4 linked regions of the Homo sapiens genome follow. The protein of the gene in region 1 purifies or fractionates together with the protein of each later gene. This does not show direct contact. Each region holds a gene or a part of one and is shown in the gene's direction. Other genes may lie near its edges.

Evidence for each region. Proteins that work in one complex are often made in the same cells at the same time.
Region 2: the proteins of LIPH (region 1) and GDF11 purify together in Homo sapiens (affinity purification with mass spectrometry; 3 studies listed by BioGRID and IntAct, with this or other methods). This does not show direct contact.
Region 3: the proteins of LIPH (region 1) and DNAJC12 purify together in Homo sapiens (affinity purification with mass spectrometry; 3 studies listed by BioGRID and IntAct, with this or other methods). This does not show direct contact.
Region 4: the proteins of LIPH (region 1) and BRIP1 purify together in Homo sapiens (affinity purification with mass spectrometry; 3 studies listed by BioGRID and IntAct, with this or other methods). This does not show direct contact.

What each region holds. Positions count from the first base shown.
Region 1 is NC_000003.12:185,532,089-185,535,588, reverse strand, and holds part of LIPH (lipase member H isoform 1 precursor), read left to right. Parts: intron 1-456; coding exon 457-824; intron 825-1,909; coding exon 1,910-2,018; intron 2,019-3,500.
Region 2 is NC_000012.12:55,755,443-55,757,764, forward strand, and holds the end of GDF11 (growth/differentiation factor 11 preproprotein), read left to right. Parts: 3' UTR 1-1,822; downstream 1,823-2,322. Other genes in the region: SARNP (SAP domain-containing ribonucleoprotein), read right to left, coding at 2,070-2,111. UniProt on the Homo sapiens protein: Secreted signal that acts globally to regulate anterior/posterior axial patterning during development. May play critical roles in patterning both mesodermal and neural tissues. It is required for proper vertebral patterning and orofacial development.
Region 3 is NC_000010.11:67,800,189-67,803,688, reverse strand, and holds part of DNAJC12 (dnaJ homolog subfamily C member 12), read left to right. Parts: intron 1-3,500. UniProt on the Homo sapiens protein: Probable co-chaperone that participates in the proper folding of biopterin-dependent aromatic amino acid hydroxylases, which include phenylalanine-4-hydroxylase (PAH), tyrosine 3-monooxygenase (TH) and peripheral and neuronal tryptophan hydroxylases (TPH1 and TPH2).
Region 4 is NC_000017.11:61,797,529-61,801,028, reverse strand, and holds part of BRIP1 (Fanconi anemia group J protein), read left to right. Parts: intron 1-1,729; coding exon 1,730-1,929; intron 1,930-3,500. UniProt on the Homo sapiens protein: DNA-dependent ATPase and 5'-3' DNA helicase required for the maintenance of chromosomal stability. Acts late in the Fanconi anemia pathway, after FANCD2 ubiquitination.

The sequences.
Region 1 (3,500 bases):
GATTTGGCAGCCAGGTGTGGTGGGCTCAGGCCTGTAATCCTACCACTTTGGGAGGCCAAGGTGAGTGGATCACTTGAGGTCAAAAGAGTTTGAGATCAGCCTGGCCAACATGGTGAAAACCCATCTCTATCAAAAAATACACAAATTAGCGGGCATGATGGCATGCACCTGTAGTCCCAGCTACTCAAGGAGGCTGAGGAGGGAGAATTGCTTGAGCCTGGGAGGTGGAAGTTATAGTGAGCTGATATTGCGCCACTGCACTCCAGCTTGGGTGAGAGTGAAACCCTGTCTCAAAGTATGTATATATGATTTTGCAACTTCATTCAACTGGATCCAGCCCTTAGCCAGGTCCTATCAGGAACATAAGAAGAACTCCTACAAATATAGAACAGCACTCTTGCTTGATGCCCAGCTAAGGAAAGACCTGTCGTGATGCCATCTAATTTTTATTTTCAGACGCAGAAGAAACATGTCCTTCATTCACCAGGCTGAGCTTTCACAGTGCAGTGGTTGGTACGGGACTAAATGTGAGGCTGATGCTCTACACAAGGAAAAACCTGACCTGCGCACAAACCATCAACTCCTCAGCTTTTGGGAACTTGAATGTGACCAAGAAAACCACCTTCATTGTCCATGGATTCAGGCCAACAGGCTCCCCTCCTGTTTGGATGGATGACTTAGTAAAGGGTTTGCTCTCTGTTGAAGACATGAACGTAGTTGTTGTTGATTGGAATCGAGGAGCTACAACTTTAATATATACCCATGCCTCTAGTAAGACCAGAAAAGTAGCCATGGTCTTGAAGGAATTTATTGACCAGATGTTGGTAAGAGAATTCTCTTAGATGATTCAGAGCTAAGTTGAAACTGGCCCATTATCTGAGGGCTTAAAGCCAAGAGATAGCTACAGTGAGCAGGAGGCCTATATTGCAACATTTTGCAAATGTGAATAAGCCCCAGGGAAGGTGGGATGAGGGGCTGTGCAAAATGTCCATAGGTATGTTTGTTAGGCTGTGCACTGCACAGGGCACCCATCTGAGGGAGCACCCTTGTCATTGTGACATTATAGATTTATATATTTATTATGATAAATTTCCACCAGATGATGACAAAGTGTCTTGAGGAAGGGGCATTTTTTTCTAGCTCACAATAAAGGTGTCTTACAGGTAGGAGAGGTTCTGTCTAGGATTTCTTGGTTTAAATGCCTAGAGCTTCCTCAACTTCTTTTTTTTTTTTTGAGACGGAATCTCGTTCTGTCACCAGGCTGGAGTGCAGTGGTGTGATTTCAGCTCACCGCAACCTTTGCCTACCGGGTTCAAGCGATTCTCTTGCCTCAGCCCCCCGAGTAGCTGGGACTACAGGTACACGCCACCATGCCCAGCTAATTTTTGTATTTTTAGTAGAGACGGGGTTTCACCATGTTGGCCAGGATGGTCTTGATCTCCTGACCTCGTGATCCACCTGCCTTGGCCTTCCAAAGTGCTGGGATTACAGGCGTGAGCCACTGCGCCCGGCTAATTTTGTATTTTTAGTAAAGACGGGGTTTCTCCATGTTGGTCAGGCTGGCCTCGAACTCCCGACCTCAGGTGATCTGCCCGCCTCGGCCTCCCACGGGGCTGGGATTACAAGCGTGGGCCACTGGGCCCAGCAGACAGACTATTTTGAATCCTGCTCTGCTCTCTCCCCAGCTGCCTGATCTGGGGCAGATGACTTCAGCTTAGGGCCTCAGTTTCCTCATCTGCATAATCAAAAGAATAGTATTTACTTTGCATGGATGTTGTGACTTTTAAATGAGATAATAGATGTAAGGTGCTTAGAATTACTTCTCCAAAGTCAACAGCCAGGAAATTTCTACAAATGTTAATTCCTTGGCCCCTTACAATTTACAATGATGGACCTCTTGAAATTCCAGGCAGAAGGAGCTTCTCTTGATGACATTTACATGATCGGAGTAAGTCTAGGAGCCCACATATCTGGGTTTGTTGGAGAGATGTACGATGGATGGCTGGGGAGAATTACAGGTAAGTGCCTGTGAATGGGCATGGGTTGGTAGCCTGGGCAGGGTGTTCACTGGGGGAGTATTATGTAGGCCAATCCAACTCCTTGGGTTCAAAGCCAGCTCCAATTACCTAACCTCTCTGAGTGTGGGTCATTGCATGCAAAAGGAAGATCAAAATAATATTGACCTCAGGCTATTATGTAATAAAACATAAGTAAAGCATTTTGTAAATTGTGTATACTATAGAAAAGATGAGTAGTGACTTTATTTCTATTATGGCTGGAAAAACAGCTATGTCCCATTCAAATCTGTGTGCCGCAAACAGTTAGTCCTCTTCCTTTTATTTAATCCAGGAGACCCTGAACTATAAACCTAATACGCTTCAGTCCCCAGGCACAGCTGGAGTCTCATAAGAAAACGAGATGGGAATTTTGATGGCTGGGGCTTATTCTCTAAATATCAGCTTTCGGGCCAACACTGAATGAAAACCTTCAGAAATGCAGTAGGTCAGATCCCAAACAAAGACTCCTTTGCTGGAATCTCCTGCCTAGGGCTTAGTAGCTTTCCACAGCGGCTCTCTCTTTCAGAGTCTCAAAGCCTCTCCCATTTCTCCTTTCCCAGAATCCATCCTCATACCTAGATGGCTATTTTAAATCTATGGAAACTGAAAAGGTAGAAGTGGATGGAAAAAGGGGAGAGGTAAATGATTAAAACTACATTTAGGAGGTAAACTTTTAGGGCCACAAGTTTTTAATTTTATTTTTAATTTAAATTTTATTTTATTTTATTATTTATTTATTTTTGAGAAAGAGTCTCACTCTGTCACCCAGGCTGGAGTGCAGTGGTGCAATCTCGGGTCACTGCAACCTCCACCTCCCGGGTTCAAGCGATTCTCCTGCCTCAGCCTCCTCAGGAGCTGGGATTACAGGCATGCGCCACCACTCTTGGCTAATTTTTGTATTTTTAGTAGAGACATTGTTTCGCCATGTTGGCCAGGCTGGTCTCGAACTCCTGACCTCAGGTGATCCACCCATCTCGGCCTCCCAAAGTGCTGGGATTACAGGCATGAGCCACTGCACATAGCCTTTTTTTTTTTGACAGGGTCTCGCTGTGTTGCCCAGGCTGGCATGCAGCTCACTGCAGCCTCAACGCCCCCCCAGGCACAAGCAGTCCTCCACTCAGCCTCTCAAGTAGCTGGGACTACAGGTGTGTGCCACCACACCTGCTTAATTTTTAATTTTTTTGTAGAGATGGAGTCTTACCATGTTGCCCAGGCTGGTCTTGAACTCCTGGGCTCAAGCAATCCTCTCACTTCAGCCTCCCAAAGTGCTGGGATTACAGGTATGAGCCACTGTGCCCGGCCTCATGTTGTATTTCTGTTGGACAGCACTTCCTTCAAGAGTTTATGTTGATCTCGGGTATGGAAGTAAGAGGCCGTGAAGTTGCATGCAAAATGTTGGGTGTCTGTCCTGGGGAGGGGTCCAGAATTTTCATCAAATTCTCA
Region 2 (2,322 bases), on another chromosome or scaffold:
TCATTAAGAGCTTCCAGGTATGCAGAGAATGTCACAGCTTCAGGAATTGGAATCAGTTAACCACATCTGGATGCTGGATCAACTATAGTAGGGAAACGGGGAGAGGAAGGAAGGGTACTAAGATCTCAGGTAAACAATTACAAGCCTCAATGTCTGTTCCATCTCCAAACGGAATTACTATTTTAAAACTGAATTGGGAAAAAGGCATCCTGAACTATTCATGCTCAAAGAGTATGTGGAGAATGACTATAATGAGATAGGAAGGGGAGGACTTCATCTGGCTTGGAGGTTAGAGACTTCTGACCAACATAGGAACAGCTGCTGAAATGGGATGAAAGAGGTTAATAAGAAAAAAAAAAAAATCCTCACAAATTGGAAAACACTGTTCAAAGATCTAGGGGAAGTAAGATGAGTGAGGAGAATAATTAGGCTTCAAGAAGAGAATCCTGGCAAGTAAGGCTGAATATCTTTCTGGAAGGTTATAGAGGATAAAGAGACGAAGAAAACTTCCAAAAGATCCACTGTTCCACTTCATAATCAGCATCTGCTCTATTCCCTCATGTATTTTTCTCTTTTTAAAACCATATTCAGGAAGAAACCATTAGTGAATCTATAATCTCTCAAGTTACAAATCAGATCTATTCTGTTTTCAGATGAAGGCAGAGTAGAGAGAGGAAAAGCTAGCCCCAAGATCAGAGCCTGAGGTAAAGAAAAGGAAGGCAGACAGAAAAGAGGGAAAAGGGAAGGTCATTCCAATTTTAAGGTTTATTTGGTTGAAGAGGTGTCAAAAATTTAACCAGCATTCCCTTTTGTTCACTTCTCCAAAGTCTCAGAATGGGGCAAACTTCACAACAAATGGGCAGCAGTTTTTGGATCTGCTCTCCAAGGCACAATTTTTCTAAATTATCTAAACTTTAGGTCCCTGCTTTCCTCACCAACCAGAGACTTTGGAGAAATAAAGAGATATCTTGACATTAGAAAGGTGATCAAACTATTACCATTTCATTAAGCACAAAACCAGGCAGGTTTTAGTAGAAATAAGGATAAAGGATTACACCACAGCAACATGGGACCTGATCATAGTACCAAAGTCTTCAGGTAAGGTGTCAGGCTCCTAAGTCTTATTACCAAAAATAGCTCAAACAAAAACCGAGCTTATATAAAGATTAAGAGGAGAAATTCTGCAATAACATATCCAAAAAGATTAAGCAGGTTTCAGATCTACATGAACTTGAAGCCTCCAGTTCCACTGCTTATGTTCCCAATGATTTAGCTAACAATGCGTAACAGCTCTGACATCCTCTGTCATGCTTTGATTCTGCATACAAAATTTCTTCTGTCTCTGAGGGATATCCAGCCCATCTCCCTTCCTGAACTGACTGACCAACATAGTATCGTATCACATCACCCTTGAAATCAGGGCCCTTTTCCTTTAATGTGGGACCCTGGACTCCATTTTATCCAAGAAAAAGTCTGCATTATTAGCTAATAACAGAAGGCTACTAATCACTGCCCTTGTATTTATATCCTTTGCAACACCTAAAACCTCCCATGTTCTGTTTTATTTCAGTGGGTCACTACAAGCTGCTGGAGCAAAGACTTGGTGGGTGGGTAACTTAACCTCTTCACAGAGGATAAAAAATGCTTGTGAGTATGACAGAAGGGAATAAACAGGCTTAAAGGGTAAACTCAGTCCTTTTCCTTGTCTTCTCTTCTAAGGGATAAAGGTATTATGGCCAATTCTCTATAATATTTGCCCCTGAAGCTCCCCTTATCTGGTCTAATCTAGCTCCAATAAATCAAAGGAGCACCTAATAAAACACATTGTTCTCTTTTCTATTTTTTTTTATTAACAAGCAACATAATCAAAAACAAAAACACAACAACCTTAAAGCTGAAACAGCAATAAGTCAAACTGCTGCCGCAGTTCATGGATGTACCTGGGGTACATGCTCCCTCATTGCGAGGCAGGACGTAGGCACATGACTGTGCATTTAGGCATATATGTGACCAAGAAGAAGGAGAGAAATGGAAAACACTGGAGAACAGAAAGTATCAGGAACTTTTCATCAGGCAATCCCAAAGCGCTCTGCTCTTTTCCTCTTCTTTGCCTGTAAAGAAGAAGCAAGAAGAAAAAAATTAGACTGAAGACAATAGTTGCCTGGGTTCCTGGCTGCTTTAATCCAAACTCACATGAACTGTCACAAGGCCCGAGAAGGAAGGATGGCCCAGACTTGAGCTTGGTAGCTAGAGATTTCATTCCTGAATCTCTCCAATCCTTCCAGTTATCCAGTAGGAGCTGGAAAGTTTAATGGGTAAGGA
Region 3 (3,500 bases), on another chromosome or scaffold:
GTTTCTGTCAGATTCAGACCAAGTCTGTGCACACCAAAATTAGGTGTAGTGTGGGTGGGAGACACTTCAGAGACTCAGGCATGATGCTGAGGCCTCTTGAGCCCCTCTCATAGGATTCTACGAAATTTTCCTTCTTTTTAAAAAAATAGTAATTTAGATACTGAATAAAAACAAAAGTAGTATAGACTTGCTGTTAAAAAATTCAAAGAATCATATATAGCCAGGTTGCCAACCTTCTCTGCTTCTGTTTCTTGAAGTAACCAAGGCTGACACTCAGGTGTGTTTCCTTCCACTATTCTCTATGCTAACACAGGTGTGTATATGTGCACTTATGAGAGCTTTAAAAGTAAAGAATGGGGTTATACTGTACACATTTCTCTGTGTTACGCAGTGGTTAAGAATGTGGGCTCAGCTTTTCACTGATGAGTTGTATGACCTTGGACAAGCTAGTTAACCCCTCTGCATCTATGTCTTCTTAGTTATATAATGGTCAAAATATTAGTGTCTACCTCATAAAATTTTTTTTTTTGAGGAGTAAATAACTTAATTGTCCAGGCGCAGTGGCTCACACCTGTAGTCCTAGCAATTAGGGAGGGTGAGGTGGGCGGATTGCTTGAGGCCGGGAGTTTGAGACCAGCCTGGGCAACATGGTGAAACCATCTCTAAAAAAAAATATGAAAATTAGCCAGGAGTGGTGGTGCGTGCCTGTAATCCCGTTACTTGAGCCCGGGTGTGTGTGTGGGGGGGGATGTTGAGGCTGCAGTGAGCTGCGATTGCACCACTGTACTCCAGCCTGGGTGACAGAATGAGATCCTGTCACACACACACACACACACACACACACACACACGCACAATAACTTAATATACGTAAAATATTTAGACCAATACCAGGCACATTGTAAACACTTTTTTTAGTGTTAACTTTTATTATTAAGAGACTTCTCTTTAAATCCTTACATTCAGAATGAATTCCTGCTTTTTAACAGCTGATAACATTCCACAGTGTAGATATATGTTATGTCAAAGTCAAACAAAAATATAGATTCGAATCTCTATGTAAAACATTTTACTTGGGAAAATATATAAAAACTACATTGCAATTCAAGGCATACACACAGATGGGATGGTCTTTGGTGTGTCTGAAGAACAAATAAAATGTTGGGGGTTTTATTAGAAAGAGAAATGTTACATATTGTTATGAAAGAAAACTCATTGGCACTAGCAAAGTTCTGGGAGCTAGCAAGCTGTAATTGGTGAGTGATGGCAATAGGTAAAACTAGCCTTAGAGGCAAGGCAGGTCATTTCGGCAGCTGGCTTGTGATAGAATTCTTGGGTAGGCATTTGTGTCCTGAGTGCTTTTCTTTTCCTCTCCCTGGTTCTCGGCTCTAATTTACTTGGGTAATAACAGATAATGCCAATTCATATAATCAATTTTCACATATAATTTACTCAGAACAAATTGTGATGCCAGTTTTGATGTCTTCATATTGTGATATGTATGCTATTGTTTAAGAATGAAGTGGAGCCAGCTGCAGTGGCTTGGGCCTGTACTCCTAGAACTTTGGGAGGCTGAGATGGGAGGATCGCTTGAGTCCAGGAGTTCGAGACCAGCTTGAGCAACATAGCAAGAGCCCTGTCTCCACAAAATTAAAAAACCATTAGCTAGGTATGCTGGCGTGCGCCTGTAGTTCCAGCTACTTGGGAGGCTGAGGCAGAAGGATTACTTGAGCCTGGGAGTTTGAAGCTGCAGTGAGCTATGATCCTGCCACTGCACTCCAGCCTGGGTGATAGAGCAAGACCCTGTGTCTCCGTGTCAAAAAAAAAAAAAAAAAAAAAAAAAAAAAAAAAAAGAATGAAGTGGAGGGGATGGGAATCATTGTTCTTTTTTTTTTTTTTGAAACAGAGTTTTGCTCTTGTTGCCCAGGCTGGAGTGCAGTGGCACTGTCTCGGCTCACTGCAACCTCCACCTCCTGGGTTCAAGAGATTCTCCTGCCTCAGCCTCCCAAGTAGCTGGGATTACAGGCACCCGCCACCACACCTGGCTAATTTTCATATTTTTAGTAGAGATGGGGTTTCACCATGTTGCCCAGGCTGGTTTAGAACTCCTGACCTCAGGTGATCTGCCCACTTTGGCCTCCCAAAGTGCTAAGATTACAGACATGAGCCATTGCATCCAACTGGGAATCATTGTTCTAAAAAGCTGTTGTTGGAGAATTATGAAATTCTGCCAAAGGTTGCATTTACAAGTATTTTCTTTATGCTGTTTAAAAGATTATTGGCTTTTCTGACTAGTGCCTTAAAGCTGGAGTTGGATATATCAAAGTGCTGTTGCATGATTATTTATGATTTCATTTTACTGCAGCGTAAATTTTTATAATGTCAGCATTTAAGAAATATTATTCCTGTCAACTTTACCAAGCCCTGAGTGGCTTCTTATATATTACTTTTCAGCATATTTGCTAATTTCCTCAAGCAGTGCTAGATATTCACTTTGGAATTTGCCTTTTGATGTCTCTTCTGTGATGAGCAGCCACCAAATAGCCCCCACCACATTCTAATTCTTTATTGCAAAAAGTAAAATATGGAGCACTGCATCTGAAAACCACTGTGCGAGACAATCTCATTTTTACTTTCTTTCTGCTTAAATATGCAATAAATATGTCTTCTGATAAATACAGTTCTAAAATAAAATAGTTTTGTGTAACATCTTGGAGTAAAAAAGAGAAAGAAATTTTTTTTTTTTTTAGACAGAATCTTGCTTTGTTGCCCAGGCTGGAGTGCAGTGGCACCACCTCGGCTCACTGCAACCTCTGCCTCCCGGGTCAAGCTATTCTCCTGCCTCAGCCTGCCAAGTAGCTGGGATTACGGCACCTGCCATCATGCCCGGCTAATTTTTTGTGTTTTTAGTAGAGACGGAGTTTCACCATGTTGGCCAGGCTGGTCTCGAACTCCTGACCTCGTGATCTGCCCACCTCGGCCCACCAAAGCACTGGGATTACAGGCATGAGCCGCCGCGTCCCACCAAGAAAAATTTAAATGTACGCAATGATTTTGGTGTGCTGCCGTGTCCCTGGGCACTACCTTCCTAGGCATTGCCAACCTTGTGGCTCCAGCCACAAACATTGTGACTCTGCCAGAGGGCTTGCTCTGGCAATGGAGCCTACTTGGCAGCAAATCAGCAGGCAGTAAGTGTCAGGGAGTAAATGCCCTTTGGATGACAATAATGAGTGGAAGTGGGAAGCTAAATTCTCCAGGTCCTTCACCCCTCATGTGAGATAACTCTAAGAAGTTTTATATTATCTCCCAGGGTTCCCCAGTGGGATCATTTGCAGTTACCCATGGCAGTAACTTGTTTGATAATGTACCTTTTATAGCTTTGGTTCTCATTCTGCTAAGGTGCCACCTGGGATTACCTCCCAAATTAGCCACTTTGTTTCAATTTTTTTTTTTTTTTTTTTTTTTTTTGAGATAGAGTCTCTCTCTGTCACCCAGGCTGGA
Region 4 (3,500 bases), on another chromosome or scaffold:
TGGGATTACAGCAGGATTTCTCTTTGCATTTATGAATATTCAAAAAGAATTATTTAGAAACATTTCTCTGAAAAAACTATGTTTTGAAGAACTTATGTGGGGGAATAAAATTATGCCTTGTGAGCTTTGAGAAGTGAACTTCAGATAATGGCATTTGTGTTTGTTTGCCTGGTTCTTTTTAGAGACATGCAATTGTTAACAGCATAAGACAAAAAGTGAATAATTTGGCATAGTCAATTGTTATTCCTGTCTTCAGATCTGACTGCACAATTCATCTCAGCTTTCTATTTCTTTAAGATCCAAATTAATAGGCATTATGTTTACTACCCCTTCTATCCTACCTCTTATTTGGTTATCTCTTAACTAGATCTCTTCCTTCTGAGACACTGTGCATATCAATGCCAGGTCAGTTTTCCAAATATTGCTTTTATTACATCCTTTTATCTGCCTAAAAATCTATTGCTTCCTTTGCTCATGAGATAAAGTTCATATTTCTTAAGCTTACACTCAAGATGCTCAATAGTCTGACCTGGATCTGCCCAATTTGAATCCTTCAAAAATTACCTCATACTCCCTTGAGGATACCTTGTTCTTTACTCTATCTTTGCTTTTGATGACACCTCTTTGGAATGCCCTGTCCACTCTTTGTCTGTCCAAATCCAAATCCTACTTATCTTTTAAACCCCAATATATTTCCTACTCTTCCATGGTTTTTTCTCAACTTTTCAGCTGTCTGTGTATTCTTACTTCCTCAAAATAACTCATTGACAATTGCTTTGTGACAGTTCCTTGTATTAGTCAGTACTCTTTCTATTGCAAGTGACACAAACCTACCCTAAAAAATGCTTAAGAAAAAATACTTGATTCTCTTTATTGTGATGGCTTTATTCTCAGGCAAGTTCTCACTCTTGCTTATGGAACAAAGATAACCATAAGCAGCTAGCTCACCTGGAGAAAAGAGCATGGCCACATATTAGTCCCTCCAAATTACTCTGGTTGGCCTACCGTGGATCACATGTCTGTTCCTGAACCTGAACCAGTCACTGTGACCACAGAAGGATGGAATACTCTATTTAACTGACAATCCTGGGCCTTACCCCCATTGTGAAAGTGGTGATGTCCTTTGATTCACAGGTTAATAGTCCTGCCAGCATCACATGGGAGTTGGAGAAGAACAATTCTCCAACTCCCATGTTGGAGAAGGATTGCAGGACAGATTAAAACAAAACATATATATTATGTTAGTATTTTAAGAGTCATTTTAATCTTGTATTGTTATTTTACTTTTAAAGGTTTTATGCTTTTAATCTTGTATTGTTATTTTACTTTTAAAGGTCTTATGCTTTTAATCTTATATTGTTATTTTATTTTTAAAGGTCTTATAATTAGTTTGTAAAATTATGTTGGAAACACTTTCATAGTGGGATTTTATACCTTTCTGTGTAGCCTGTGGTACCTTGATCCAGACTCACTGACATATTTTTGTTGCTGTCGATAGGTTTGCAAAGTATTTTAAGAGTAAAAAAATGGCAAACACAATAATGTAGAGCTGATATTTGGTTGGCCATAGTGCTTCAGAAGTTTTATTTAAGACCTAGAATCTCTGTTGCTTATGTAATTGCATTTGCAATATTGGCCTATAGTGTGAATTTTAAAATGAAATATCTTGCCTGCTGTTGTTAAATCTATTTTGCCAAATGTTTTACAAGAAAATTCTTTTATCTTATAGATGGATTTAAATCTGAAAGAACAGGTTGTCATTTTAGATGAAGCTCATAACATCGAGGACTGTGCTCGGGAATCAGCAAGTTACAGTGTAACAGAAGTTCAGCTTCGGTTTGCTCGGGATGAACTAGATAGTATGGTCAACAATAATATAAGGAAGAAAGATCATGAACCCCTACGAGCTGTGTGCTGTAGCCTCATTAAGTAAGAAGATTTGTCTATTAGTGTATTTGTGCTGCCTTTATATGAAAAATATGTTTGATTATGCCAGAGTATTTAAAGTTAGTAAACTTTGGTTAACTAGGCTTCTTGGGAAATGAATTGTTCCTTGCCAGTTAAGCTTTAAAAACAAGGCTAGTCCAACCTTTTGTCTTGTTCACAAGAATATAATGAACATAAGTGATTTTTAAAAATGAATAATTGTGAATCTTATTCCTAATTTGGCAGGATAACATAATAGCCCCGAAGGATGTGTCTAGGATATTGAACCAGAAACTAAACGTGCTTTTAATTAATATATTTTAAAATTCTGGATCATGGCTTTAATTTATTGCTTTATTCTCCAATTTAAATAGGATTCTAGTTTCATGGGTTTTAATTAATCAAGATTTCAGTACTCTAAAATAATATATTTAGTACTAGCTTTATGACAATTTACACTAATTTTTCTTTTATTAGACATTAAGTTGTTGATCTAGAATCTTGTTACCATAGAAAAAAACTTCCCAACTCTGAATCCCATTTCATTTATTGTAGCATTTTTCTGTTTCCTTCACATTTACACTTTAAAAAAATTTGAATGTTACACAGTCACATGGTTTGAAGACAAAATGTATACAAATTTGTATAGTAAAAACCTCCTTCCAGTTCCATCCCTGATCTGTTTAATGTCTGTGTTCTCCTAAACAAGTTTATCATTCAATGCATATTACTCATTTATGAACCAATATTAGATATATTTTCTTGTCCCTCACTATTTTCCAAATGATGGCATAGTATACATACATTTTTCTGCAACTTGCTTTTTTCAATTCCCAGTGTATTTTGGAGACCTTTCCATGTTAAGACCTAGAAAGCTTTCTCAGTTTAAAAAAAAAATAGATATCTAGAATTCCATTAGATAGATATGCAATAGTTTATTTAACCAGCCTCTGATTAATAGAGGAGGTTGTTTCTAGTTTTTTGCTCTTAAACTGCTATAATGAATAACTTTGAACATACATAATTTCATTTGTATGCAAATATATCTATAGGAATCTTTTTAGAAGTGGAATTGTTGGGTGAAAGCATAGACATATTTGTAATTTCAATAGATATAGCTAACATTTACACAATAGGTGGATGACAGGGGGGCTAATGTATGCTTCTACCAGCAATGTATAAGAGTATGGAAATTGTTTTCTTCTAGCCTGCTAGGTGAAAAGTGGTATCCCAATGTAGTTTTAATATTCATTTTCCTTAATATGCATGAAATTAAGCATCTTTAAAGGCCATTTATATTTCCTTTTGTGTCAACTGCCTGTTGACATCTCTGTCCTTTTTTTGTTCTTATTGTGGTTCTTTTTCTTAATGATTTATAGAACCCCATTCATATATTAGGGAATTAAAATCTTTGCCTGCAATAAGAGTTGTAAATACTTTCCACCCCATTTTGCCATTTGTGTCTTTTCTGGTGGTGTTTTGCCATGCAGATTTTTGTGGTTTTTATTTTACAGCATAACTTGTTGAAAGAGTTGTCTGTAGTTGCTAATTCTATTTTCTCACTTGACATTCTT